Linked DNA regions of Homo sapiens: region 1 is linked to region 2. Evidence: fine-mapped expression QTL. A gene starts in region 2. The other region holds a variant in brackets. All regions are shown on one strand. Distances are between the middles of the regions.

Region 1 (15,016 bases), 34 kb after region 2:
AACAAGTCCAGGTGCAGTGGCTCACGCCTGTAATCCTAGCACTTTGGTGGGTTGAGGTGGGAGGATGGCTTGGGGCCAGGAGTTCGAGACCAGTCTGAGCAACATAGTGAGACTCTATCTTTACCAAAAAAAAAAAAAAATTAGCTGGGTGTGGTGGCACACACCTATAGTCCCAGCTACTCGAGAGGCTACGGTGGGAGGATCAGTTAAGCCTAGGAGGTCTAGGCTGCAGTGAGCCATGATTGCACCACTGAACTCCAGTCTGAGCAACAGAGCAAGACCTTGTTTCTAAATAAATAATTAAACAAATAAATAAGAAAAAATACTTAACTGAAAGTTTGGAGATCCTGACTATCTTACTTGCAGAATGACCTGGCCTAGTCATTTAACCTCTCTGAACCTTGGTTTCCTCCCTGTAAATGGAGTATTCACCTCTCTCTACTCCACCACCTCTCTCCTTACCCAGACTCATTATTGCCCACCTTATCTGCATTGTAGGGGAGTTTATGAGGATAACGGGCTAAATTTATGGAAGTGTTTTAAAGAAACAAAGCATGGAAGGACTATGAATAATGTCATCAGTCATAGAGCAGCTAAAGGGCGAGGCCTGCAGAGGTCCATGGTCCAGCTTCCACCCAGAGGAGGCATCCTCTTATTAAGCTTTATTGGTTACAAAGACTAGAGGTTCACAAACTTAGCTTGAGAAAAAAAGGGGAGTTTGTTTATGAGAGTGCACCTGGACTGGGTGGGAGTGCAGTTATAGAAATCAGGGTGGCTGGCAGGACTGACTTTTCTTTCCGTCTGTCTCATGGGTTCAGTCTCTCTGTGTCTTCCTCTCACGACATCTCTTTTTCTTTGTTCCGTTATGCATTTTTTTTTCTGCTCTGTGGTTTTTCTCTCACTGATAGCAGCTGTTTATTCCATTTCTGCTTCCTCATAACTTCACTCGGCTTGAACCACTCAGAGTGTGTTCCCTTTAGCTTGCGGCATCCTTTCATCTTCAGCTCCCACTGCTCACTGCCATATTTTTTTGGATTTCTTTGAACAGATTTCCAAGAGAGGCAATTTGATTGTATCAGCTCCTCTTTGCCCACCAGAACACACTGTAGCCCCGTCCCAGCTAGGCTCTGAGCTCTCTGCATCAGAGGTCCCTTTCTGATCCCTCAGCAGGTGCTGTGTGCAGGGCAGTTTCCATGAGAAAGGAGCCAGGCTTGTCTGAATTTCAAAGGTTTGACTTAACTCTAACCTAAGAGCAAGATCTCCTAGTTTGTAACCCTCCTCTACTTGCCCAGGTTAACCCCTCAAGAGCTACCCATAGAAGCCTCAGACGGCACCTGGCAGTTCCCTAGATATTTGAAGTCACCTATGCTAGTCTTCTCTGAGTGTTCTGTTTATTAAACTAAATGTTCGTGGTACCTCCACCTGTCCCGGTTCAATTCCCCATGTTGCTATTTGTTATCCCCTTCCTTTGGAGTCGCTGTTTTTTGGTGCCCCTTCTAAAGTGTAGTGCCCTGGCCGGGTGTGGTAGCTCAACATCTGTAATCCCAGCTACTTTGGGAGGCTGAGATGGGAGGATTGCTTGAGGCCACGGGTTTGAGACCAGCCTGTGCAACATAGTGAGACCCCATCTCAGCAAAAAAATAAATAAAATTAGCCAGGTATGGTGGCATGTGCCTATAGTCCCAGCTACTCGGGAGGCTGGGGTGGAAGGATCACTTGAGCCTGGGAGGTCAAGACTGCAGTGAGCCAAGATCATGCCATTGCACTCCAGCCTGGGCAACAGAGTGATACCGTCTCCAAAAAATAAAATAAATAGATAAACTGTGGTGCCCTGACTTGACTATAATGTATTAGATGTGGTCTGACCGGTGCCATCCTGGACAGTCTCTTCTGTGCTCTGTTTTTTGTTTTGTTTTGTTTTGTTTGAGACGGAGTCTCACTCTGTCTCTCAGGCTGGAGTGCAGTGGTGTGATCTCAGCTCACTGCAACCTCAACCTCCTGGGTTCAAGCGATTCTCCGGCAGTTCTCCTGCCACAGCCTCCCAAGTAGCTGGGACTACAGGCATGTGCCACCACACCCAGCTACTTTTTGTATTTTTAGTAGAGACAGGGTTTCACCATGTTGGCCTGGCTGGTCTCGAACTCCTAACCTCCAGTGATCCACCTGCCTCGGCCTCCCAAAGTGCTGGGATTACAGGTGTGAGCCATCGCGCCTGGCCGTCTCTGTGCTCTGGACACTAGCCTTTTAGTTGGATGACCTGAGTGCATTCACATTCCTCACAAGTGCACAACAAACAGCCTGGATTGAGTTTGCATTTAAAACACATCTGTCTTACGCATTTATTGACTTTTTGGAAGTAAATTTTCATTTTTATATTTCTGCCTGTTCGTTTCATCTTACACATCGTGAGCCTTGATTCCAGCCTGTGTTTGGAGACCTTAGGGTCAATAAGAGATTTTAGGGCATCATTCTTATCACCTGGCAAGCAGGGAATGGACCCATGTCTCAAGACTTTAATGGCGCCTGACTGCCTGGTCCTCAGCCCCCTTCCCCTGTCCCCTCATAGGCACCATGTCATTATAAAAGCTTAAGATGAAAGATGATGGGAAGCCCACCATGGCACGATTGGGCTCCCTTTAAAAGCAATACCCGTTGAGCTAAGATACTCACTGTTAGAAACCTGCTAGCAGACATGGAAATGGGAGGTAGGAGGCACTTAGACTGAAAGAAGATTTTTGAGGACTTACTTTATGCCAGGCCTTCTGCTCCTGCTTTATCGCGTGTAATTCTAGAGACAGCCCTTTCCAGTAGATACCTTTATTATTAACTGCATTTTACAGGGGAGGATACCAAAGCGTAGGAAATTTAAGTAATTTCTTTAAGGTTATCTGGTTATCAAGTGGCAAAGCCAATATGTAACCTAGACTGGCCAATTCCAAGGCCCATGCCCTTAGTCACTTCACTATGCTGGCGGTGACTCTGGTGACAATTCAGAGTGATAAGTTCCATGGCCACAGTAGGCACTCAGTCTTTAGACTGTCCACACGGAGGACAGTCTCCTAACTTTGACAGGAGAGGAAGAACAGCTAGGAAAGGGGGCTTCCTTGACAACACAATGTTTGCCTTTAATCTTAGTGGAGGGTTCACAGGCAGGAAAGGGCGAGGGTCTTCTGGACAGAAGGCATAAATGCTTGAGTGGGCCTGGTCAGGATTGGGAAACTGTGTTTAGTGTATCTGGAGCTCAGGAGAGTGAATTGTTGAAAGGCAAAGATAGAGAAGTGGGCAGAAGCCAGAGGAAGAAGCCTATGGATTTGCTGAAGTGAGTTTGAATGTTATTCCACAGGCTGTCAGGAGCCCCTGGTGAGTTCTAAGCAGGTGAATGTTGTGATTAGACTTGTGTTCACAGTCTGGTGCATTGTGGAGGATGGGGCAAGGTGAGAGGCAGGGAGCTCTTAGGTAGGAGGCTTTTGCAGTAATCCGAGTGATAAGAGATAAGACAGTCTGAAAAAGTTGGGCACAGTGGCTCACGTCTATAATCCCAGCATTTTAGGAGGCTGAGGCAGGAGGATTGCTTGAGCCTAGGAGGTTGAAGCTGCAGTGAGCTGTGATTGTGCCACTGCACTCCACCCTGGGTAACACAGTGAGACCCTGTCTCAAAAGAAAAGAAAAAGGCCAAGGCTGTGGGCTTGGGCAAATTAGCTTTACAAAGAGAGAAAAGCTTTTAGTAGGCACACAGTACATTGTCACATGGGAAACTAAAATAGGCTGTAAGTGGCTCAGCTGAACCTCTCACTCTGAAAAAAATTCCTTCTGAGAGCACTTGTTTGGCTGTTCTGGGGATATGATCTTCTATGAAGACTGGTGCTTCCTTCATATTAACTCCATGCAGCTCCTGTCTCCACCTACTCTCCTCTCCCACTCTCCTGGAAGACTATTTCACACCTTTTTTCTCCTCGAACCTCTCACACCTCTTCCCTTATCCTGTCTCTCAGTTAACTTTGCCTCCCACTTCACCAAGAAAATGGAAGCAACCAGCACTTCCTCAGACTCCCAACACCACCTCTCCCCACCTTCCTGTGTATAATCAGCTTTCCTTTCGGTTACTAGAGTTCCCACCTCAGTTGCCTCATTAAGGCCAACCCCCCAACACAAGATTCCATCCTCTTCTGTCTGCTCAACATGATTGCGCCAGTGATTTTTCCCTCTTTATTTTATTTATTTATTTATTTATTTATTTAGGACAGAGTCTCACTCTGTCACCCAGGCTGGAAGGCAGTAGCTGCCATCTCAGCTCACTGCAACCTCTGCTCCCAGGTTCAAGCAATTCTCCTGCCTCAGCCTCCCGAGTAGCTGGGATTACAGGCACCCACCACCATGCCCAGCTAATTTTTGCATTTTTAGTAGAGATGGAGTTTTGCCATGTTGGCCAGGCTGGACTCAAACTCTTGACCTCAAGTCATCCGCCCACCTCGGCCACCCAAAGTGCTGGGATTACAGGCGTGAGCTACCATGCCCAGCCCCTCTTTACTTTAGATCATCAATTTTTCCCTCTCTGCTGGTTCATTTCATGCTGAAGTTTCTCCTAGAAAAAAATAACTTTCTCTTGACCTCAATATCCCCTGCAGTTGCCACCCATCTCCCTGTTCCCCATCACAGCAAAACTCAAAAGAATGTCTGCTTTCGCTTTTTCTAATTCCTCTCTTCCCATTCCCTCTTAACCCACTCCAGGCTTTTGCATCACAGTACTCCATCAAAACCGCTATTGTCAGGGTGCCCAGTGACCTTCACAATGCTAGCTCCAGTAGTTCTCATTCCCCAACTTCTGGAACTCTCTGCAGCTTCTGATAAAGTTGATGGCCCCCTCCTCTGGGAAACCCCCATCTTCACTTCAGAGATCCACACTGTGGACTTCCCCCTATCTCCATGTTTGGGCCTCTTCCATCTGCTGTGCTGCTTGCGGGGCCCAGTGCCTGGACCTCTTCTAATGGCTTTCCGTGCCAACTCCATGCTGGGGACTCCCTCTGCCACTGCTCCCCAACTCTACTTAGTCATCTAATAGAAGTAACAAACAAAACCAATTTCAACTGCACTCTTTTCCTTCTTCGTTAATCGTAGCTCCATCCTTCTAGTTACTCAGGTCAAAGTCTTCATCCTTGTCTCTTCTCTCATGCCTCCTACCCAGTCCCTCAAACAATCCTATTGGCTCTACCTTCAAAATACACATGGAATTGAATCACTTGTCACCACCCCACAGCTACCATCCTGTCCAAATCATCTCTCATCCAAATTAGTGCAGTGGTTTCCTAACTGGTCTCCTCACTACCACCCTTGCCAGTCCCTCTCTTCACAGTCTTTTTTTTTTTTTTTTTTTGAGAAGGCGTCTCACTCTGTCGCCCAGACTGGAGTGCAGTGGCGCGATCTCGGCTCACTGCAAGCTCCGCCTCCCAGGTTCACGCCATTCTCCTGCCTCAGCCTCCCGAGTAGCTGGGACTACAGGCGCCCACCACCAGGCCCGACTAATTTTTTTGTATTTTTAGTAGAGATGGAGTTTCGCCATGTTAGCCAGGATGGTCTTGATCTCCTGACCTTGTGATCTGCCTGTGTTGGCCTCCCAAAGTGCTGGGTTTATTTGTATAGATGTAGGGGGTACAAGTGCAATTTTCTTACACAGCTATATTGCACGTGGTAAAGTCTGGGCTTTTAGTGTACCCATCACCCGAATAGTGAACATTGTATCCAGTAGGTAATTTTTCAGCCCTCACCCCTCTCCTACCTGCCCACCTTTTGGAGTCTCCAGTGTCTTATTTTTCTACTCTGTATGTCCATGTGTACCCATCATTTAGCTCCCACTTATAAGTGACAGCATTCGGTACAGCATTCGGTATTTGACTTTCTGTTTCTGAGTTATTTCACCTGGGATAATGGCCTGCGGTTCTGCAAAACGTGATTTCGTTCTTTTTTTATAACTGAGTAGTATCCCATGGTATATCTGTACACCACATTTTCTTTATCAGATCTTCTGTTGATGGGCACTTAGGGTGATTCCATATCTTTGCTATTGTGGCTAGTGCTGTGATAAACATATGTGTGCAGGTGTCTTTCTGGTGTAATGATTTCTTTCCCTTTGGGTAGATAGCCAGTAGTGGGATTGCTGGATCAAATGGTAGTTCTATTTTTAGTTCTCTGAGGGATCTCCATACCGTTTTCCATGGAAGTTGTACTAATTTACATTCCTACCAACGGTGCATAAGTGTTCCCTTTCTCTGCATCCTCACCAGCATTTATTGTTTCTGGACTTTTTAATAATGGCCATTCTGACTGGTGTAGTATCTCATTGTGGTTTTAATTTGCATTTCTCTGACGGTTAGTGATGTTGAACTTTTTTTTTTAAATATGTTTGTGGGACACTTGTATGTCTTCTTTTGAAAAAAATGTCTATTCATGTCCTTTGTCCACTTTTTTCTTTTTTTGAGTCCAGTTTCTGCAGAATGCCTACTTTTTAATGGGATTATGTGTTTTTTTTTTTCTTGTTGAGTTGTTTGAGTTCCTTGTAGATTCTTTTTTTTTTTTTTTTTTTTTTTTTTTGAGACAAAGTCTTGCTCTGTCACCCAGGCTGGAGTGCAGTGGTGTGATCTCGGCTTACTGTGACCTCTGCCCCCCAGGTTCAAGTGATTCTCCTACCTCAGCCTCCTGAGTAGCTGGGATTACAGGTGCCCGCCACCATGCCTGGCTGATTTTTTCGTATTTTTAATAGAGACAGGGTTTCACCATGTTAGCCAGACTGGTCTCAAACTCCTGACCTCAAGTGATCCACCAGCCTTGGCCTCCCAAAGTGCTGGCGTTACAGGCGTGAGCCACCATGCCCAGCCTTTCCTTATAGATTCTGGATATTAGCCCTTTGTTGGATATATAGTTCAGAAATATTTTCTTCCATTCTGTAGGTTGTCTATTTACTCTGTTGATTGTTTCTTTTGTGGTACATAAGCTTTTTAGTTTAATTCAGTCTCATTTGTCTGTTTTTGGTTTTGTTGCATTTGCTTTTAAGGACGAATTCTTTGCGTGAGCCAATGTCCAGAAGAGTTTTTCTTCTAGGATTTTTATAGTTTCAAGTCTTATGTTTAAGTCTTTAATCCATCTTGAGTTAATTTTTATATATGCTGAGAGATATGGGTCCTGTTTCATTCTTCTTCATATGGCTATCCAATTTTTCCAGCACCATTTGTTGAATAGGGTATCTTTTCCCCATGTATATATTTTTGTTGACTTTGACAAAGATCAGTTGGTTGTAGGTATGGGGGCTTTATTTCTGGGTTCTCTATTCTGTTTCATTTATCTATTTTTCTGTGTTTATACAAGTAACATGCTCTTTTGGTTACTATAACCTTGTAGTATAATTTGAAGTTGGGTCATGTGATGCCTCCAGCTTTGTTCTTTTTGCTTAAGGTTGCTTTGACAGGCTCTTTTTTGGTTCCATATGAATTTGAGGACTTTTTTTCTAATTCTGTAAAAAATGGCGTTGGTAGTTTAATAGGAATTGCGTTGAATCTGTAAATTGCTTTGAGCATTATGGTCATTTTTAACAACATTGATTCTTCCATTCCATGAGTGTGGGATGTTTTTTCCATTTGTTTGTGTCATCTACAATTTCTTTCATCAGTATTTTGTAGCTCTCTTTGTAGAGATCTTTCACCTCCTTGGTTAAATGTATTCCTAGGTTTTGTTTTGTTTTGTTCTTGTTTTTGTTTTTGTTTTGGTGGCCATTACAAATGGGATTGAGTTTATGATTGGGTTCTCAGCTTGATTGTTATTGGTGTATAGAAATGCTACTGATATTTTTGTTTGTTTCTTCATTTGTTTTTTATAGAGACAGTGTCTCACTTTATTGCCTGGGCTGGTCTCAAACTCCTGGGCTCAGGCGATCCTCCTGCCTCAGCCTCCCAAAGTGCTGGTGTTATAGGCATGAGCCAGTGCACCCAGAAAAATCACCACCACTGATTTTTGTACACCAACTTTGTATCCTGAAACTTTACTGAAGAGTCATTTTATTTATTTATTTATTATTTTGGCTTCCTCAATCATGGTATTATTATTTATTTCTCTTTAAAAATATGGAAAGCTTAACGAATTTGCATGTCATCCTTGTGCAAGCGCCGTGCTCATCTCTGTATTGTTCCAGTTTTAGTATATGTGCTGCCAAAGCGAGCACTGAAGAGTCTTTTCTTCATAGAGCAGCCAGAGTGATCCTTTTAGGAATTTAGTGAGATCTTCTCACTCTTCTGCTCCGAATTCTCCAGTGGCTCCCAGTCTCCCTAAGAGCCAAAGCCAGACTCGATTATCCTGCCAGGTATATGTCATGTGGCCCTCCAGTCCCTCCTGGCCTCCTCCCCTGCTGTTCTTCCCTTGGCTCACTTCA[C/G]TCTCACCACATGAGCCTCGAACGCGCCAGGCACGCTGCAGCCTTAGGGCCTTTGCACTGCTCCTCCCTCTGTCTAGAACATTCCTCTCAGATAGTCTCGTGGCACACTCCCACTTCCTTCAAGCCTGGCCTCAAATCTCACCTTCTCAGTGAGGCCCACCCTGACCACCCTTTTTAAAACATTGGCCTGGCCAGGCACCGTGGCTCACGCCTGTAATCCCAACACTTTGGGAGGCCGAGGCGGGCGGATCACAAGGTCAAGAGATCGAGACCGTCCTGGCCGACATGGTGAAACCTCGTCTCTACTAAAAATACAAAATTAGCTGGGTGTGGTGGTGCATGCCTGTAGTCCCAGCTACTTAGGAGGCTGAGGCAGGAGAATCACTTGAACCTGGGAGGCAGAGGTTGCGTTGAGCCGAGATTGACCACTGCACTCCAGCCTGGTGACAGAGCAAGACTCCATCTCAAAGAAAAAACAAACAAACAAAAAACATTGGGTCCTTCCTTTCTCCCTTCACTCCAACCCCTGGCCACCACCAGTGCTTCCCTTAACGGGCTCTATTTTTTTTCCATGGCACCTCTCCCCTTTTCACATCCTATATAGTTATTATGTTTATTGTTTGTCTCTGCCACTAGATGATGAGCTCTGTGAGGACAGCAGTTTCCATCTGTTTTGTTTGTGGATATATTTTTAGCTCAAAGAACAGAGTGTGGCACATAGTGGATGTGCTTATTGTTTTTTGAATTAATGACTATGTAGTACTTATACATTGAGGACCTATTCCGTGCCAGGTTCCTGGCAGGGCACTGGGAATCCAAAAATGCATGAGAGTGGTCCCTGCCTTCTGTCCCAGAGTCTGTTTGTTTTGAGGAAGGACACCATTCATCTGCTTAGCTTGCCCTGCTCCCTCAGCCTGAGGGCTTGGACCCTTTGTGCCTGTTCTTGCCGTGTAGTTACCCCTATTGGCTGTGAGCTCAGGGCCCCTTCTTGAGTCATTCCTGGAGTTTCGCTGCTCCATGATGTTGCTGTCCTCTTGCTCCTGCCCTTCACTGAAGTGGTCCTGGATTTGCACCCACAGGCTGAGCTGTCAGATACTGCTTTTTGCCTAGTAACCTCCTTGAGCCTGGAACTAGACTTTTCATTTTCTCAGCCTTTTTTTTTTTTTTTCTGAGACATGGTCTTGCTGTTGCCCAGGTTGGAGTGCAGTGGCATTATCACAGCTCACTGCCGCCAACTCCTTGCCTCAAGCAATCCTCCAGTCTTGGCCTCCTGAGTAGGTAGGACTTCAGGCACACACCACCATACCTAGCTAATTTCTTAATTTTTTTGTAGAGTTGAGGTCTTGCTACGTTGCCCAGGCTGGTCTAGGAACTCCTAGCCTCAAGTGATCCTCTTGCCTCAGCCTCCCAAAGCACTAGGGTTACAGGCATAAGCCACCATGCCCAGCCCTCTCTGCCTTTCTGACTTGGATTTGAATTCTGTCTCTACCACTTAATAGCTCTAATGACCTTGGGCAACTCAGGTAGCTTCCCTGATCCTCAGTTTCCTGAATTACATAATAAGATTAGTATTAATACTTAGTTCATAGGGATATGGTGAAAATTAAATGAAACCATGAATGTAAAGCATTTAGTACAATCCTTAGAATGAATTCTCCATCAATAAATGTTACCCTCTGTTATTATTATCGTTATTGAATTGTTATGGATTATGTAAGTCATTTATAAAGGCACTGAATAAATGATAGTTATCGTTACCGCCACCACCACACAACCCCACCAAAACCAGTCCTTTTGGTATCCCAGGCGCTCCTCTCTCTAGGATGACCCCTTCAATGCATGTCAGCTACTCTTTGACCAAACCTCACAATGATTTGCCTAATGTTCCTGTTTTTTTCCTTTTCAGACCTGAAAGAAGACTATAATCAATGGAACAACCTTATTGAAGGCATTGGACCGTCGCTCACCCCAGGGGCCCCCCACCATCTGTCCAGCCTGTAGGCACAACTGGCCATTTGTAAAGTCACTTCAGCCAAGTTTTCATTTGGGAGCTACCCAAGGGCACCCATGAGCTCCTATCAAGAAGTGATCAACGTGACCCCTTTTCACAGATTGAAAGGTGTAATCACACTGCTGCTTGGATAACTGGGTACTTTGATCTTAGATTTGATCTTAAAATCACTTTGGGACTGGGATCCCTTGCTGATTGACAAACAGACTTTCTGGGACCTTGATGGAGTGGGGAACAAGCAGTAGAGTGGGACTGGGGGAGACCCAGGCCCCGGGCTGAGCACTGTGAGGCCTGGATGTGAAGACTCAGCCCAGCGAAGCTCATTCCCTTACCCCCGGCCAGTGCTGCTGCTTCAGTGGAAGAGATGAAGCCAAAGGACAGAATGAAAATCCCTACCTTCAGAGACTCTAGCCCAGCCCAACACCATCTCTTCCTACCTCTCAGCCTTCTCCCTCCCCAGGGCCACTTGTTGAAGTCTGAGCACTTTATGTAAATTTCTAGGTGTGAGCCGTGATCACATTTTCTATTTATTTCCAAGTCTTCTCATTGTATGGAACATAGTACTACTTATACTTACAGTAGTAAGTTATACTTGTGAGCCCACAGAGTGGCAGACAGCATGGCTCTCACAGCACAGGGAGAAAAACTGAGGTACACAGAGGTACCTCAGAAGCTCTGGATGTCTTTGGGGGTTTTGCTAAGTGTATCTTGATAGGAAACAACAAAAGCAGGTTGAGATGGGGAAGATGACAGAACAACAGTGTTAAATGGCCATTTGCACAGGCCTTTGCCACAACAGAGAAGTAGTTTGGTCAGCTAAAACTCAGCTGCAGCCTGGACAGTAGAGCGAGACCCCATCTTAAAAATAAAGAAGGCTGGGCGTGGTGGCTCATGCCTGTAATCCCAACACTTTGGGAGGCCAAGGCAGGCAGATCACTTAAGGCCAGGAGTTCAAGACCACCTGGCCAACATGGTGAAACCCCGTCTCTACTAAAAATACAAAAAATTAGCCTGGCGTAATGGCAGGCGCCTATAATCCCAGCTACTCAGGAGGCTGAAGCAGAAGAATCACTTGAACCTAGGAGGCGGAGGTTGCAGTGAGTCAAGATCGCGCCACTGCACTCCAGCCTGGGTGACAGAGCAAGACTCTGTCTTAAAAAAAAAAAAAAGAAAAAGAAAAATTTAAAATAAATAAAATTTAAAAACGCAGAAGGCCACTCCCAGAGAGGCCTAGGAGTACCTTGGTCATTTTTTCTTGCCTCAAATATTATAAACCTCCAACTTGCTCAGAATCAGGGTGCTTTTATTGTCTGTTTTCTGGCTCTGAGGCCCTTGCCCCAAATTTAAGTCAGATACAGACTGAATTTCCATTCTGTTCTGTTTATAATATGAATGATATTAATACTCTTGTTTGCTTAATGTTATGTTGGAATTTTCTGTTTAATCTGCAGTAGAGCAAGATGGAGAGCCATCTGGAATTGACTTCCTTCTGTCTTTCTTCTGTGTTCGCTTACTACTTGGGCCCATGTGGGAAAAAAACTTTAAAAGGAAGGAAGTCTTCTTAGGGATCCAGTTCAAAGCTATTTGGGGGCATCAAACTGAAACTCTCTTCTCCACTACTCAAGACTTCGTGCCTCAGTCCAAGTAGGTAAGAGCAAAAGGGAAATGCATCTCTACACAATGGCCCATGGTCAGGGCCACCAGAGCAAGCTGGGCCTAGATCTCCACCTGTCAGTGACTGGCCATTCTAAGAGGTGAAACAGCAGATCGTTGAGGCTGTGAGGGAGGATCTTTGAATTCCCATGAGACATAGCATAAGAAGGGTATCATTAAAGCCCTGGGCTCTAAAGTTACAGAGCCTGGTTTTGAGTCCTGGCTCCACCACTGCCAACTGGGTAAATTTGAGCAAATGGTATTCTCTTTCTTATCTCAGCTCCTGCGTTTCTAAAATGAGGGTCTGCGTTATGAATAGTTAGGAGGATTAAGTGAGAGGATGTATAACCCATGGGTTACTTAAAAGTATATTTCCTACCTTCCAAACATGAGATTTTTCTAGTTATAGTTTCTTTTCTAGCTTGATTGCTTTGTGGTCAGAGAAAATGACCCATATGGTTTCCATCCTTCAAAATTTGTTGAAACTTGGTTGTTGGCCTAGTATGAGATCAATGTTGTAAATGTGCCATGTATGTTTAAAAAGACTATATATTCTGAAGAAGTTGTTGGCTTGCTCTTTTACTCAAGAACACATCATAGATTTCTGTCTTTTTTTTTTGAGATGCAGTCTCACTCTGTCACCCAGACTGGAGTGCAGTAGCATGATCTCGGCTTACTGCAACCTTCGCCTCCCAGATTCAAGCAATTCTCCTGTCTCAGCCTTCTGAGAAGCTGGGACTACAAGTGCACGCCACCACACCCAGCTAATTTTTGTATTTTTTTAGTAGAGATGGGGTTTCACCATATTGGTCAGGCTGGTCGCAAACTCCTGACCTCAGATGATCCACCTGCCTCGGCCTCCCAAAGGGCTGGGATTACAGGCATGAGCCACCGTGCCGAGCCCATAGATTTCCTTCTATGAGAGCACAGACAGATATATAATGGGGCCTTCCAACTACCACATGGGCACCAGAGACCCTCAGCACTTGCAGAACCAGCCGTAGGCCAATCCTGAGCATACGCCACCCTTGTGCTGATTCCACAAATGCTGAGAGGCCGGTTCTGGCAGTAGCAGCATGTGAGACCCAGGTTCTACCTTAGCTCCATAAATAACACAGGTAAATTTTACAAAACCATGAACAAGAGACCTGGAGCCTCCCTAGTGAAGGGAGTGTTCCAGAAACTAGATCCCTTTCCTTCATTCAATTCATGTTCTGGTAATCACTCATTTATCCAGCAAACACTAGAGTATGTGAATTTTCCATATAATTGAAAATTATCCTAGAGGCAGCAAAATATAATATTGATTATTTTGAATGGTAATCTACCAAAAAGATAATACACACACTTTTTAATCAAAGTGAGCTGACCTCGTTCAACCTTTTAGGATGTTCCAGTCAGGATAGACTAGGTTGTATGGTGGTAACAGGCAATCCCAAAAGCAACAAAAGTTTATTTCTTGCCCATGCCACTTGTGCTCTTTGATCGGCTGCAGGCTCTGCTCTGCATCATTTTTATCCTCACTCTAGGATCCAGGCTGGTAGAGCTGCCATTATCAGAAAGTGTTGCTGTTCACCATGGTGGAACAGGAAGAAAGCCTGATGAATCACCCGCTAGCTCTGAGAGCTTCTGCCCGGGAGTGACTCTCGTTATTTCTATTCATGTGTCATAAGCCAAAGCACGTCCTGTGGCCATTCCTAACATCCCAAGAAAGCCAAAATATTTGTGACCAGGTCTCATGTCAGAGAAGTGGTGTCCTCTGATCTAGGAAGGTGCAGAAAGCTGTTTGGCTTGCATGGGGTTGCCCCCTGTGCTGCGTTGCTGTTCAGAGTTGGTGTTGTCTCATTTGTGGTCAGGCTGCAACCATCGCTCTTCAACGCACCAGCCCCTAGCAGCCCTCCCTGGCCACTTCAAGTTTATGACTTTCGATGCGCAATGGACTGATAAATCAGCCACATTATTTAAAACTCTGTCTAAGGGAAAACAAGGCAGTCAGTGAGCAAGGGTTTTAGGGACTCCCTTGCAGCTAAAGTATGTCACCTTTAGCGCATGGGCTTCGTAATCCTCTGACTGCTCCAGAAGGGGTATCACAAGGCCTTTGGTCTCTCATTCTGGTTTTTGGTTAGCTTCCAGGGGCCTGAAGGATACTTCATAAATGGCCTTTAGATAAGCAAGGAAATCCTGATGATAACTGACATGTGCTGATAAATTGCATCCTAGTGAATCTTTTCCAGAAAGAGGATGTCTTGGGTTTCTTTTCTTTTTTTTTTTTTTTTTAGTAGAGGCGGGGTTTCACTGTGTTAGCCAGGATGGTCTTGATCTCCTGACCTCGTGATCCACCCGCCTCGGCCTCCCAAAGTGCTGGGATTACAGGCATGAGCCACCGCGCCCGGCCTGTCTTGGGTTTCTTTGGCATCTTCTCATTCCCCATCCCGCTGCAAGACTCTGTGCCTATGGAGGCCTCCTAGTGGTATAATGTGAAGTTTCTGTGCATGGGATGGCAAGCCAGTTAGGAAGGAAGGTAAGTAAATATCCCTTCCACTTCCTGGACTTCAGACTAAGGCTGGTTGGATTCTTGCTGTGTCCCTAATGCAATCCCCGAGCCCCTTCCACTGTGCATTCTGACACAGCTGCCCCTCTTGTCCTTCCTCAAAAATTCTATTGGGCTCTTGAAATGTCAAATGATGGATTCCAACTCCGTGTCTTGACCTTGTGGGGACCTTCATCTACCCCCTTTTTTTCTGGAGCACCACTTATCCCTAGGCTCACAAAGTGACAGAGGGACAGGAGAGGCCATACTGTATGTTTGGGACTCATCCTCATTAGGAAGCTCACTTTCTATCCCATCATAGCCAGGTGCAGAGGGCAGCTGTCCCTGGCCATAGCTGCAGGGCACAGTGACAATGAGGGTGCTGAGGATGATTGTCGCTGTGTGTCAG
Region 2 (15,016 bases):
GCAGCAGAGGCCTCTCTATACCTCCCTCCCCTCCAGCCTTGCCCACTGCCCCTCACCACTCCTGCCCCCACCCTGGGTCCCCTGACCCCACCTTACCTGCCATGTTTGTATAATTTTCTTAGGCTCACAGCAGGCATTGCCGCCTACAATGGGATCTGATCATGGAAGGAAAACACTCCCCTGGGGACCTAAGAACACCCTACCCTACTACACATGCTGCACCCCATCTGCTGCCAACCTCTCTGCCCTGCCCCTGTACCCAAAACCAGTGCTATGTCAGGCTAAGCAGTATCCCTAGAAATTTTAAGCAGAGATTGGCACGATATTGCTGGCAAGGTTTCCACCCCCACTCCCATTGCAACCCCATCCAATTTCTCCAAAACTACTGAGAACTTGGTGCTCACCAAATCATCTCATGTTCTGCAGGCTGGCAACCCTTTACCAGGCATTTGATAGACTTGATGATAACAATGCTGGGAGCCAGGAAGAGAACATTAAGAGCAGGAATTCAGCCCTGCCTTGGCCTCTAGGCATCCCCGAACTGGCCCAGTTTCCAAGAATCATTTTTGATGAGAGATTCTGGGAAGCAGGACATTGTTGAGGCCAAGTAAACTCCCAAAGGCCTGGAAGGAGCCAGAAAGCAGAAAGGGTAATGCTTCCCCCTCCCAGGTAGGAGTGAGCAGGATGACCAGCTCTTTTCCTTGCAGGAAGCCCCCTCAGCCTGGCCTCCTTCTGGGCTCCGTAGTCCCTTCTCCACCTAGCTAGGGCTCTGGCAGCTGCCTTGGCAGATGCCCCCCATCTCTACACTTAGGCTTGGCAGACAGGGAATGTGAGAGCAGCCTCAGAAAACCCAGTTCCCATCCCTTCCCTCCAGCCAGGCATCAAGGTATGGTGGCAGAACAGGGAAATCTGAGTTTAATCCTGGTTTTGCCAGCCATTAACTGTAAGACCTTGGGTAAGTCACCTGGCCTTTGCGTACCTTGGTTTCCGAACCTGCAAACTGAGGGTGGAGCTACTGACCTCTCAGAATCATTGTGCAAACTGAATGAGCTCAGATGTGCCGAGCACTTGGCACAAACATGTTCCTTCCCAGGGCTGGACACTGGCATTTGGCATTCTTTGGGTGGAGTGGGGCCAGGGTGGTTATTGTCTGGACCACACAGATTCAACCCATATTTTGGCAGAAAAGACAGCATTTGCAAAGATATGCAGGGGTGACAGGGCATGGCAGGGTTGGAGAACGTTATGTTCCCAAGCAGTTTGCTGTCCCTGGAGCAAGGGGTGACCAAGAATGAGGAGGTGGGAGATAAGTCAAAAAAGATCAGCTAGGGTCAGGATGTGAAGGGCCTTGAGCCAGACTAAAAAGCTTAGGCTCCAAATGTACCCCTTAAACTTAAAAGTTGGAAAGAAAAAACTATTCCATATATATATATATATATATATATATATATATATATATATATATATGTATATATATATAAAATAAAATAAAAGGCTTAGCTCCATCTCAGGCTTACTGTCATGGGGTGCAGCAGTGAGGATTGTGAAATGTGATCCAGGCAGACCTGGCTGCACATTTCAGTTCTGCCACTAGGTTGGGTGGCCTTGGGCAAGTCACTTAGTCTTAGCTTGAGTTCTCCCATCAGCAGATCCTGAGACTCAGGTGCTGGAACTAAATTGTGGAGGTAATTTCAGGAAGCAGAAGAAGGGCATGGAGAAAGTAAGACCGGGAAGAGAAAAGGTAATAAAGGGTGCGTGAATGTGCGGGTTGCTGCCAGGAGCACCTGGGCGCAGTTCTGCTGGAGACCTTCTGAGAGACAGTGTGAAATCATCCTATTTGATGGGGAGATCGCTTGAGCCCAGGAGTTTGAGGCTGCAGTGAGCAATATTTGTGCCACTGCACTCCAGCCTGGGCGACAGAGCCAGACCCTGTTTCTTAATTTAAAGGGAAAGGAAGGGTGGGGAAGGGAGGGGAGGGAAGGGGAGGGGAGGGAAGCGGAGGGGAGGGGAAGGAAGGGGAAGAAGAAGGGGAAGTGGAAAAAAAAGAGAGAGAGAAAGAAAGAAGAAAGAAAGAGAAAGAAAGGAAGGAGAGGAAAGAAAGAAAGAAAAAGAAAAGACTCTCCTATGTGAAGATGAGGAGGTTGGGCATTTAGGCACCAACTCTCTTGATGGTTGAAGGTTGCCCTTGGGATACATAACACGCCTGTTCCTCCTGGTTCATAGATACTTAAGAAAGCTCTCAGGCAAGGAAGCCAAGAGAAGCAGGCTCTTGTGTGGTGGAGCCCTGAGCATGCTGAAAACTACCACACTGGCAAGGGAACTCAGAGAAGGGATGAGGGGCTATGAGGCAGGTGTCAACACTGTCCGCTGTTACCTCTTTGAGCCTCTGTTTTCTCATCTGAAAAATGGAAAAGACATGACATACTTCACAGGAAGATTAAATGTAAAGTATTTGAAAGTTACCTAATGACATGGCTGACACATAGGAGATAATCAATAAATGGTAGGTATGCTTGGGCTCAGCTCAGATGCCAGCTCCTCAGAGAATCCTTCCCTCCCACCCTATTGAGAGTAGCTCACTCCCTTCATTCTCCACCAAAGCAGTATCCTACTTCCTGTGAAGCATTTAACATAGTATATAATTATCTTGGTTATGTGTTTGTTTGGAGTTTTGTTTTTGTTTTTGCTTTAGAGACAAGGTCTCACTCTGTCACCCAGGCTGCAATGCGGTGTCGCAATCGTAGCTCACTGCAGCTTCAAACTCCTAGGCTCAAATTGTCCTCCCACTTCAGCCTTGTAGTAATTAGGACTACAGGCATGCACTACCACGCCCAGCTATTTTCTTTTTTAATTTTTTATAAGGCAGGGTCTCACTATGTTGCCCAGGCCAGTCTCAAACTCCAGGCCTCAAGTGATCCACCTGCCTCAGCTTCTCAAAGTGCTGGGATTACAGGCGTGAGCCACCACGCTCCACCTGTTTGTTTGTTTAACTCTGTCTCTCCTCACTAGAATGAAAGCACCGTGTGAGCAGGGAATTGGTCCCTCTTATTCACTGCTTTATATGCAGTGCCAAGCATAATGCCTGGGACATACTAAGTGCTCAATACTTTTTTTTTTTTTTTTGAGACAGGGTCTCACTCTGTCGCCCAGGCTGGAGTGCAGTGACGCGACCTTGGCTTACTGCAACCTCCGCCTCCCAGGTTCAAGCAATTCTCCTGCCTTAACCTCCCTAGTAGCTGGGATTACAGGTGCCCACCACCGTGCCTGGCTAATTTTTGTGTTTTTAGTAGAGACGGGGTTTCGTCATGTTGGCCAGGCTGGCCTTGAAATCCTGACTTCAAGTGATCTGCCCGCCTCGGCCTCCCAAAGTGCTGGGATTACAGGCATGAACCACCGCACCTGGCCTCAATACATATTTTTTGAATGGAAGAATGATTACAGTAGCAAAGTAAGGAAGGACAATTCCTGTTCTTGACCTTTGTTAAGCACATCTTGTTAACAAGATGTTAAAAAGGATTCATTTGAACTCCACTTGGGTCCCAATGCTGATAAAGACTAGGTGTAGCTATATGCAGAACCAGACCTAAGTCAGTTTCTCCATCACTAGTGCATTGCCCACTGACTTGTAAGCTATAATACAAGAAAGAGCTAAGAGTACTGGAGCAGTTTTCAGCTAAGGGCAAGGACATTTTGGCAGCGCTTGTTTGAAGACAGTGATTTGAAAAGAATAAAGCTATTGTATAATTTTGCCTCTTTGTCTCTTCCCACAGTCAGAATTATTGAGAAAGTAATGAAGTTTTAGCTCCAGAACCTCTTCTCAGGCCCTGGAAGGAGACCTAGCAATGTGTTCCCAGGTCATACGTTTTGCAAATTTTGAAAAAGATATTTTTAAATTCTTTTTCTTTCTTTTTTTTTTGGTGGATCTTACTCTGTCGCCCAGGCTGGAGTGCAGTGGCACGATCTCAGCTCACTGCAGCCCCCACCTCCCTAGTAGCTGGGAATGCAGGCACATGCCTCCACACCCAGCTAATCTTTGTATATTTAGTAGAGATGGGGGTTTCATCATGTTGGTCAGGTTGGTCTCGAACCCCTAACCTTGGGTGATCCACCCGCCTCGGCCTCCCAAAGTGCTGGGATTACAGGCATGAGCCACGGTGCCCGGCCTAAAATTCTTTTTCTTAAAGAGAGCCCCCCAAAACTGTGTAAGTTTCAAGCCCCAAAACTTGGATCCATCCCGGCCCCCTCCCAAGTCCAAGCTGCTTAAGTAACCAGTGATCCATGTTTAGTTCATTGAACCCTTGAAACAATTCTATAATATAAATACTATTGTCATTCCAATTTACAGATGAGGAAACTGAGGCTTAGGGAATAGTCATTGCCCAAGTTCTCACAGTTAGTAAGTGGTAGAGCTGGGATTTAAATTCAGTAGCCTGTCTCCAGAGACCAGACCCTTCACTCCCTTCACTAGAGTGCTTGATAATGGTGTCTATTTGTTTTCTTGTCCATTTTTCCCCACTAACTAGGAAGTCCCCAAGGACACAAAGACAAATCATTTCTTTTTCTTTTTTCTTTTCTTTTCTTTTTTTTTTTGAGATGGAGTCTCACTCTGTTGCCAAGCTGGAGTGCAGTGGCAAGATTTCAGCTCATTGCAATCTCTGCCTCACAGGTTCAAGTGATTCTCTTGCCTTGGCCTCCTGAGATTACAGGCGCACGCCACCATACCTAGCTAATTTTTGTATTTTTGGTAGAGATGGGATTTCACCATGTTGTCCAGGATGGTCTTGATTTCCTGACCTCGTGATCTGCCCACCTCGGCCTCCCAAAGTGCTGGGGTTACAGGCGTGAGCCACCGCGCCCGGCCAAGACAAATCATTTCTACATGCCAAGCATACAGCCCAGAAGAGACGTCACCATATGTTGGGATGTAAGAAAGAGGAAAGTAGCCCCCAAAGTCCAGAGGCCAGCCTGACACTCACAGCCAGGACTTGGCCTTGTCCTGTTGAACATAAACAACTTCATAGAACATCAACAGCAGACAAGGCCACTCTGTGACTGTAATGGATCAAAACACAAATAGGACCACTCTGTCATCATGTCTGAACACAAACAAAAAATGGATATTGTCCAAACCATGAAAAAGACCAACCCCCCGTCCGTGCTAAAATGAGAGACTGCTGCTTCTTACCTATGACAGCTTTAGCCTTGGTCTAGCCTCCCCTCCTTCTAGATACATTTTATCAAGACCCCCAGTCATAGAATTACCCTTGCTCTTGACAGCATCCAATCCAAAGCCAAGCCCTGCTTCCTTAAACTCTCCCCAGATTGTCTAACAAAAGCCCAAATTCTGTAAATTCTTTCTTCCACCTTCCTACAGAAATGCACCCCCTTTGCCCTTATTTCCCCATTGCCTGCCTTCTCTCTTGCTGCAATGAATAATTAATACAACTTCTTTAATACAGGTGTGTTTCCGGTGGTCTTTGACTGGAATGGCATCGACACAAGTATCAGCTATCAGTGAGCATAAAATGTTATTATCAAAGTTAAAAAATGTTGCTTCTCAAAACTAGTTGATGATAAGAGACGGAAAGTAGTTGTTCCTTCTGGAGGATGGGTGGGGGTGATTGATTACAACTGAGAAGCCAACCTTTCAGGATATTGGAAACGTCCTACATTTTGAAGTAAATGGTAGTTATAGCAAATGTTTTTAAGAAGTTAAGCTGTATACTTTAGTGCCCATTACATACTTTATTGTATACCTATTCTACCTTTATTTTAAAAGTTTTGTCCACTGGTGGTGCGTGGTGGCTCACACCTGTAATCCCAGCACTTTGGAAGGCCAAGGTGGGCAGATTACTTGAGGCCAGGAGTCCAAGATCAGCCTGGCCAACATGATGAAAACCCATCTCTACTAAAAATACAAAAATTAGCCAGGTGTGGTAATGTGCCTGTAATCCCAGCTACTATGGAGGCTGAGATGGGAGAACTGCTTGAACCCAGGAGGCGGAGGCTGCGGTGAGCTGAGATCCCGCCACTGGGCCACAGAGCGAGACTCTGTCCCCCCCGCCCCCCTAAAAAAAAGGAAATCCAAAGCTGGTCACCCAAATACCAACTTGAAGCAATTTAGCAACAAAGTAAAGGCCAGAGTTGGGATGGTAGCTGATAGATTTGAAGGGAACTTTGGGCTACTGGAGGATGAGATCTATGATGAAAATGCTGGAAAATCAACCATTTGCTTAAAAAGGTAAAGGCATTTGGGTTGTTTATCCTAGAAAAGACCGGATTGGAAGGAAGTATAGTTAAACTCAACTGTTTTATTTTGCAACAGGGAAGAATCTGATTGTGCCCAAGGAAGAGCTTCCTAACTGTGACAAAGGAGGTAAAGGAGGTGGTGACATGCCCATCCCTGGGAAATTTTAAACTCAGCTGGCCAGCAAATGGCTCCAGCATGGCCTGGTCTGGGAGTAGGAGACTGAAAGAAATGACCTCCAGCTGTCCCTCTCATGACCAAGGACCTCTGGCTTGTCGTGAGTGTTCTGGCCAGCTGCACAGCACGGATTAATGGGCCAAAGGGAGCCGCTCTCTGATCTGCGCTAAGCTTTTCAGGTTCTGTGGCCACCGCCATCAGCCACAGATTTAATGAGATCCGAGGCTTAATTACCACAGTGCAGGGCTGCCAGCACTCTCTCCTGATGACTTTATCTTGGCTCCTGGAAGGATGGGGGTGACAACAGTGTGTCGGCAGGAGAGGAGAGCCTAAAGCAGGGACTCTGGACCCTGGTGTTTCGGGGGGATGTGGGCTGCAAGAGTAGGGTGGAGGGGGCGACTGCAGGACTCAGTACCTGACCTCAAAGAGCTCACAATGTGTCAAGAGTTAAGACCTCTAATACAGGAGATACCCAAGGCAGTGTGAGTCGACTCACATGTGCGAGGCACACACAGATGTCGGCGGAAACTTTGGAGGCATGAACAAAGCTCCCAGAGGAGGGGCGCTGAAGGGTGGGGGGTGGGGCGTGGGGGAGTGCAGGTTGGAGAAGACCTTGAATGTCAGGCTAAGCAGTTGGGACTTCACTTCATAGGTAGTAGAGGGCCGTTGAACGTTTTTGAGCTGCCTGAACGATCCAAATTTCCTATAGAAGTTTACAGAACTCCTGAGGATGGGCTCTGCCTAACGCCCACTCCCCCGAGAATACTCTCCTTCCATCCCTCACACTTAGCTGCAGCCAGCACTGAACTTAATGCCATACTCTGAAACGTCCTTCACAGTCTCTGTACTCCTGGCTACGTTCTTTCCTTATATCGGGTCTCAATGTTAACAAACATCACTCCCTCTAAAAAGCCTTGCGGACACCGCCCTTTTCCCCCAAGCCTGGCCAGAGGCCCCTTTTCAAGGCTCCCACGCTTGCTGTGTCTCCCCATGAGATCACGGCTCTGTGCTGTCATTATTCATTTGTCTGAATTCTCTGCTAGACTGTGATTCTGTTGAGGCTAGGAGCGGTATCTTGTCCATCAGTGTCGCTAAGAACCAGCATTAGACAGTAATGTGGGATGGATGCGGCCCAGCAGATTACTCGGGTTCCTCCCCTTTCTCTGCCAGGGAGTCTTTTGAGGACAATGGAAAATCACAGGTGTCAACAGATGCAGGCTGGTAGGGAATGTCCCCTTAATTTGAATGATCAGTCTATTATTCTTACAGGAAGCAAAGTGTGCAGAAGACACAAAACAAACTCCAACCTCCTCCCACCTCCTTGAGAATAAAGCGAAGCGGGGACCATTTCTAGGCACGCCTGAGGACTATTTGAGGAGGGTGAGGCGGAGGGTTACGCACGGGACTAAGGCAAAACCCTCCGCTCGAGAGCAGAAATCGCGGCGGCACCTCTTCAGGCCACCAGGGGGAGGAATCACACCGCATCCCAGGCCTTGGGCGGTTTCGCACGACCACGCGGGGCTGGACGGTCGCGTAGAACTCTGGGAGGTGTAGTTTTAGAGTTGTAATGCGCAATCTCGCGCACTGTACATCGGGAATTGTAGTTCTAGATTGAGGAACGAGAAGTGCTTCCAAGCGTCCATTTTGAGCCTTGGAAACTACGACGACCAAAGGGCCACGGGTTCATGGGTCGTTTCTCATTTCCGTCGAGTTAAACGTCTGGGGCTGCTTCTGAGGAATCAGCTTGACTGGGTAAGTTTGATTGGAGAAAACACCTATATCTCAATTGAGCTTCCTGCAGACTTTTGTATTCTGGCCCGGTTTGGGGCCTCGGCGTCTCTCAGTCATAGGAATTGCACATTAATCTTCGTCCTTTACGTTTCCTATTCAGACACCTGTAGCCACCCGCTCCCTTGACCCTCCCACGGTCGCCTCGCACTTTTAACGGCCAGTGCCCCTGGAATCCCCACTGAGCTCCCGTCCCAGGACCCAGCCCCCGCAGCCCCACCTTGGACCCCACAGCCCTACCCTGATTCCTCGGCCCTACCTTCACCCTGCAGCCTCACATCCCTGAACCCCGGGCTTCTTTATGCTCCTCCACCCTTTGTGTACTTTACTCTTACTCTCAGTTTTCTGTTTTTCATGGCGGTGGAAGAAGGGTCCCCATTCCTTCTTTCCGATCCGCGATTACCCTGGACTCGAAGTCAGCAGACCCGGTTCTAGGCCAGCTCTGCCTCTCACCCTCTGTGACCTTGGGCAAATCATACAACTCTGGGACTCAGTTTCTTCCTCTCTAAAACGGAGATGACTGTTGCTCCATCAGTCTCAGGTGAGGAGTGTTGAGGAGCCAACAAGCTAGTATGTGTGAAGATGCCTTGTAAACTGTAAGACCTTCACAAGAGACAGAGATTATTTTTATCACAATTATTAATGCTCTGGAACACTCTTATCAGGCCTCTTCTCTAGCTCTGCCACCTTGTTGCTCAATCTCATCCCTCGAGTGCTTGGTGTCTTCATTGTCTACGAGCTGGATGATATTTCCTCACTTCCTCCAGAGACCAAAGGTCAGGCCAATGAGCTTTTAGTCTTCAGAGAGCTTTGTCTGAAAGGAAGCACAAGAGAAGTGCTTATCTTGGACTGTATCTTGAAATAGCCAGTGATGAAAGTGTCACACAGCTGGCAGAGCAGCAGTCCTCTGCTCACCAGAAACAGGGTCCCAGCAGGAGAGGACAGCTGCAACCTAAGCCCCATCCATTCCCTCTGGGCTCCTCTGGGCCTGTTCAGTAGACACTGGCTTTGGTAGGGGTGTCTGAGGCCTGAAAAGGCTGCTGGGAAAGAATCTGTTTTGCCAAAGGGCTTAATCCAGGAAAAATGAGAGACCTTGGCTAGGAAAGAGAGACATAGCATTGTTAATTAGTTCCTAACATTTTATAAGCACTGAAAATGCACCAGGCCCTAGGCAATATTTTCACTTACGAAGTATCCATTTTACGTATAAGGAACTTGAGAGGCATGTAGTTAAAATAATTATAGTTGCCTCCTATGGTTATAGTACCTTCTATCCATCGAGTGCTTTACATGCATTATTTAATCCTCATCAACAATCTCGTGAGTAGTTACTATTTCTTTTTTTTTGAGATGGAGTCTCGCTCTGTCGCCCAGGCTAGAGTGCAGTAGCGCGATCTCGGCTCACTGCAAGCTCCGCCTCCCGGGTTCACGCCATTCTCCTGCTTCAGCCTCCCAAGTAGCTGGGACTACAGGCGCCCGCCACCAGGCCCAGCTAATATTTTGTATTTTTTTTAGTACAGACAGGGTTTCACCGTGTTAGCCAGGATGGTCTCGATCTCCTGACCTCCTGATCCGCCCGCCTCGGCCTCCCACCGCGCCCGGCCCATAGTTACTATTTCTTTTTGAGACAAGACCTCGCTCTGTCACCCAGGCCGAAGTGCAGTGGCACAATCTTGGTTCACTGTGGCCTCCGGCTCCCAAGCCCCAGCAATCCTCCTACCTCAGCCTCCTGAGTAACTGGGACTGCAGTTGCATACCACCACATCCAGCTAATTTTTTTTTTTTTTAATTTTTTTATAGAGACAGGATTTTGCCATGTTGCCCAGGCTGGTCTTGAACTCCTGGGCTGAAGCAATCCTTCCCATTTGATCTCCCAAAGTTCTGGGATTATAGGCATGAGCCACTGCGTCTGGCCATAGTTATTATTTCTGTTGTGAGAATAAATTATCAGAAGCTTAGAGTTTGAGGAACTTGTTCAAGATCACACAGCTAATAAGTGACAGGGGTAGAATTCAGAGTCATCAAAACCTTTGTCCCCCATTATTTCATATAGCCTTATTTTTAGATCAAAAACAAAGATTAAAGAAGACTTGAGATGGGTTTAAATCATAGCCAAATGAAGGAACATTTATTGAGTCCCAACTATATGGGGAAAGCATGCAGATAGACAGTTTGGTCTACAAAAAAATATAAAACCCAATCTTTACCCCCGGAGTAGATCTGAAGAGATGAGGCATAAGTGTGCCAAAAATTAAATAGTATTCATTGGATAAATTAATTATTGAGACCAGCTATATGCAGGGCACTACATTAAGTCTAGTGATAGGAACATGCTTCTGGGTGGCCATGGGGATTATAGCAAGTGAAATCGTAGTCGTGAAAATGTGGACCAGAACACAGTATATACTCAGTAAGCGTCTGCTGCATGCATACGTGTCTGAATGAAAGAAAAGTTCATCCAGAGACATTTCTAATCAAAGTCTAGACCAGAGGTTCTCAAACTTTGCTGATCAGAAACACCTGGGAAGCTTTTACAAACGAATTGATCACTAGAAATAGGGGCCCCCAGAATATACATTTTTGAAAAGCTTCCCAGGTGATTGTGACAATAGGTTCAGGAACCTAAGATCTAGATTCTCTATGGACCACTGTTGCAGGCAAGTCACTGGTTGAAAACTGCTAGAATAGGTGTTAATCCAAGAGCTGCCCTAAAGTAGTCTAAGATTGGTTACCAGATAATGGATGTGGACAGTGATCAGAGATGATAGGAGGAAAGGTTGGAAGGACCTGGGAAAGCTTCACAGAGGACTAGAGATTTCACTGGGCCTCAGTGGATGGAGAGGCTTCTGGACAGGTACTACCATGAACTATTTAGACAAAGTGAGCAAAAGAAGGTAGAGACACATAGACTGATTTCCTTGGAAAATTCCATGACTTTTATTAGAAATGACTCTGGATGCTTTGTGTAAATGTCTCTTTGGCAAAATTTGCAACTCAGATTGGATTTTTCCATCTCTCCATCCTATTTGGACATCAGTCAATGTGAGTCCAGGAAATAAAGATTCATTTGCGTGTTAGCTTCACTCTGGCCAATTAGCTTCTGTAATTTTTATTTCCAAACAATTTAGTTGATGATCTTCCCAGAAACTTTCCAGGAGCACCAGAGAGTTCTGCTGTCTTCTGTTTGGCCATTTCCAAGTCCGCTTATCCTGATTCCTATCCCAAGTGCTGTTCTCTATGCAGAGTGAGACAAAAATCTGTTCCCATAAGAAGCTTAAGGACTATTGTCCTGGTTCCCCAATCTTAAAACCTGACTTATTGGCTCTTGACTCCCCAGATTCACTCAGTGGCCAAACCCTAGTGTTTCTACTTTTCACTCAATCAGCACATTTCTTGGATGCTTCCTAAGAGTCAGGTACCACACCAGATGCTTTGAATGCATTATTTCATTTTATTTCCACAGCAACCCTGTGAGGATGGATAGTGTTCCCATTGTACAGATGGGGAATCAAGCTTAGAGAGATCAGATAACTTGCATAAGATAAGAAAGCTAGGCAGGGCTGGCACGGTGGCTCACTCCAGTAATCCCAAGCACCTTGGGAGGCTAAGGCAGGATTATCGCTTGAGCCCAAGAGGTTGAGACCAGCCTGGGCAACATGATGAAACTCCATCTCTACAAATAAATACAAAAATTAGCCGGGTGTGATGGCAAGTGCCTATAGTCCCAGCCACCCAGGAGGCTGAGGTGGGAGCATCACTTGAGCTGGGAGGGTGAGGCCACAGTGAGCCACTGCACTCCAGCCTGGGAGACAGAGCAAGACCCTGTCTCAAAAAAAAAAAAAAAAAGCTAGGCACCAAATGAGCTGGGCCTCCAATGTGGTTCTTTCAGACTATCTCTCATGGACATGACCTCATTTCCAGAGTAGATTCCAACTTTTTAGCTTAGCACTTGAGGGACTGCTCCTCCCCAAATCTGGTCACAACTTTCTCTTCTCACCTTGCGTTGTTTCTCACACAAGCTTCCTTCTTACCGTGCCTTTGCTTGCTCTCTCCTGCTTGAAAGAGCCTTTCCCATCTTCCCCTGCTCTCTACTTCCAAGCTAAAGGAGCACTGTTTCTTCTCAGAACTCCTGTGGTCTTTTATCTGCTTTTCTTTTATGACAGTTGAACTTGCAGCTGCTTCATTGTCATGTGAGTGACAGGTGTCTTGTGGCCCCAGCAGTAGGTCTTCCATTTGCAGACCTCAACAACAAGCGATGGGGAAAGGTCAGGGTCTCAGGCTAAGCAGAGCTCATCCCCCTTCACTCTGGCTGAACAACCCACTGACATCAGGAGCTTAGCTTCTTTTTCAAAAGAATTGGGTTTGTTTTTAAATTTGCTAAAAAGAAACAAAATGAAGATGCTATCTGTAGTAGAAAGAAAATAATTTCTTATCTTTCAAAGTTAAATAGAATGATGTTAGGATTGTTGAGACCAGACAAGTGGCAGCTGACAACCAGGAGACTGTGTGTTGTTATCATCGTTCTGCTTGTGACTCTGAGCAGCTCACTTAATCTCTCCGGACCTTGGTGTCTTCCCTGGTAAAGCACGTGTATGTACGCGGAGAAGGGGAAAACGATTGTGGAGGGGATTGACGGAAATGCTCCCTTAGGTCTCTTCTTACCCAGACATGCTTTGACTGGAACTCCTGAATCCCTCCCAGAGCATCTTAAAGGAAGCAGAATAATTTAATCATTAACATGTGGACCCCAGACTCAGTGTGTATCCATTTAGATGCTTTTGGTTACAACCAAAAGAAATCTAACTTCAGTTGGTTTAACCAAGAAAGGGAACTTACTGACTCATGTAACTAGAAAGTCTAGGAGTGGGTCAGGTTTCAGGTATGGTCTAATCTGTGGATTCTTAATGTCTTCACAAATGGGCCTCTATTTCTCTGTGATTCTTCTGGTTTTCCCATCCACCATGGGTATCTTCATCCTCAAGGTGGCAAAAGTGGCTGCTGTGGTTCAAGGCCACTTGACAGGTGACATCTGCACATCACACTAGTCCAACACAGGAAATAACTTTTCTCCCCTCAACCGTCATACCAAAGTCCCGGGTTTTACGCCTATTGGACCAACCTAATGCCATACGCGCACTTTTCATCCAAATACTGACCGGAGAATAAGAAGGACTGATTGGCTCCGGTTAATTAAGGCTCAACTCCGGAGGTTAAGGAGGGGTCAGCCCCACCCAAATCACAAGGCAAGGGACACTGGGAAGTTTGACATTCTCATGTTACAACCACATTGTCCATGATCGAATTCTGGCTCTGCTCGCCATATGTTATTGGGTAAATTGCCTTTGTCAAGCATCTGTTTCCTCATCTGTAAAATGAGATAATAATACGTATCTCAGAGGACTGTTGAAAGAATTAAATAAAATAATATGTGAAAAGCACTAAACATAGTTCCTGGCACAGAGTAAGTATGATGATGATGGTGGTGTTGGAGATGATGAAACTGAAGAGGGTTAGGGGAGCACTGGCACCAGTTTAGGAAGCAGCTGAGCCGTAGGAATGTTATCTAGTCAGGAGTGTGCATGCCTGTCATGCTGAAAGCATCTGTTTGATCTACTGCCCACATCATACTTTTCCCTACCTCTGCTTTTTTTCCTCTTAGGATTTTTTCTATAAGTGCTTTCTTCCTCCTCCCCTGCCTCTCAACTTCCTCATCTTTAAAGGCCCAGCATAAGTGCTACCCCATATTCAGTAGTTTAAAAGCTGGGTGTGGTGGCTCTTACCTGTAATCCCAGCTACTTGGGAGGCCTAGGCAGGTGTATTGTTTGAGCCCAGGAGTTTGAGACCAGCCTGGACAACATAGCAAGACCCTGTCTCTCAAAAAAATCAAACGGTTTTAAGAAAAAGCTTAGTTCAGTAACTTTGCATCTGTATAACTGAATCTCCCCCTGAGCAGGATCAGTAATGGTTAAGAACTTAGCTTCCGGATTAGGCAGAGATGGGTTTGCCACTGGGTAACTTGGGAAGGTTATTCAACCTCTTTATGCCTTAGTTTCCTCATCTGTAAAACAGGGTCTTTTGTTTGTTTGTTTGTTTTTTGAGACAGGGTCTCACTCTGTCACCCAGGCTGGAGTGCAGTGGTGCAATCTCGGCTCACTGCAACCTCTGCCTCCCAGGTTCAAGCGATTCTCTTGCCTCAGCTTCCTGAGTAGCTGGGACTATAGGTGCCTGCCACTGCACCCGGCTAATTTTTGTATTTTTAGTAGAGACGGGGTTTCGCCATGTTGGCCAGGCTGGTCTTGAACTCCTGACCTCAGGTGATCTGCCCGCCTCGACCTCCCAAAGTGCTTGGATTACAGGCGTGAGCCACCGTGCCTGGCCAAAACAAGGTCTTAATAGTACCTACCTCAGGCCAGGCGCGGTGGCTCACGCCTGTAATCCCAGCACTTTGGGAGGCCAAAGTGGGTAGATCACGAGGTCAGGAGATCAAGACCATCCTGGCCAACATGGCGAAACCCCGTCTCTACTAAAAATTAAACAAAAAATTAGCTGGGCATGGTGGCACGTGCCTGTAATCCCAGCTACTCAGGAGGCTGAGGCAGGAGAATCGCTTGAACCAGGGAGTCGGAGGTTGCAGCGAGCAAGATCATGCCACTGCACTCCAGCCTAGCAACAGAGCGAGACTCCGTCTCAAAAAAAAAAGTACCTACCTCAGAGAGTGGTTGAGACAATGAAATGATGCAATGTGTATAGTGTCTATAAAGAGGTCAGTACAGTGCTAACCGTAAATAATGGATCTTAGTGGTT

Evidence for each region. PIP is the estimated chance that this variant, and not a neighbour inherited with it, causes the effect.
Region 1: its variant is fine-mapped to the expression of PAFAH2 in whole blood (INTERVAL, PIP above 0.99).

The regions. Positions count from the first base shown.
Region 1 is chr1:25,957,387-25,972,402 of GRCh38, reverse strand. It overlaps PAFAH2 (platelet activating factor acetylhydrolase 2), which reads left to right. Exons shown (of 11, transcript NM_000437.4): 11 at 10,320-12,636. The coding sequence ends at 10,414. It also overlaps the pseudogene RNU6-110P. Among named protein-coding and RNA genes, the nearest start is that of PAFAH2, 33 kb to the left of the region's middle. The variant C/G (reference allele first, on the strand shown) is at 8,414.
Region 2 is chr1:25,991,185-26,006,200 of GRCh38, reverse strand. PAFAH2 (platelet activating factor acetylhydrolase 2) reads left to right here and starts at 8,138. Exons shown (of 11, transcript NM_000437.4): 1 at 8,138-8,176. RefSeq lists enhancers at 7,993-8,042, 8,053-8,142, 8,313-8,392, 12,119-12,630.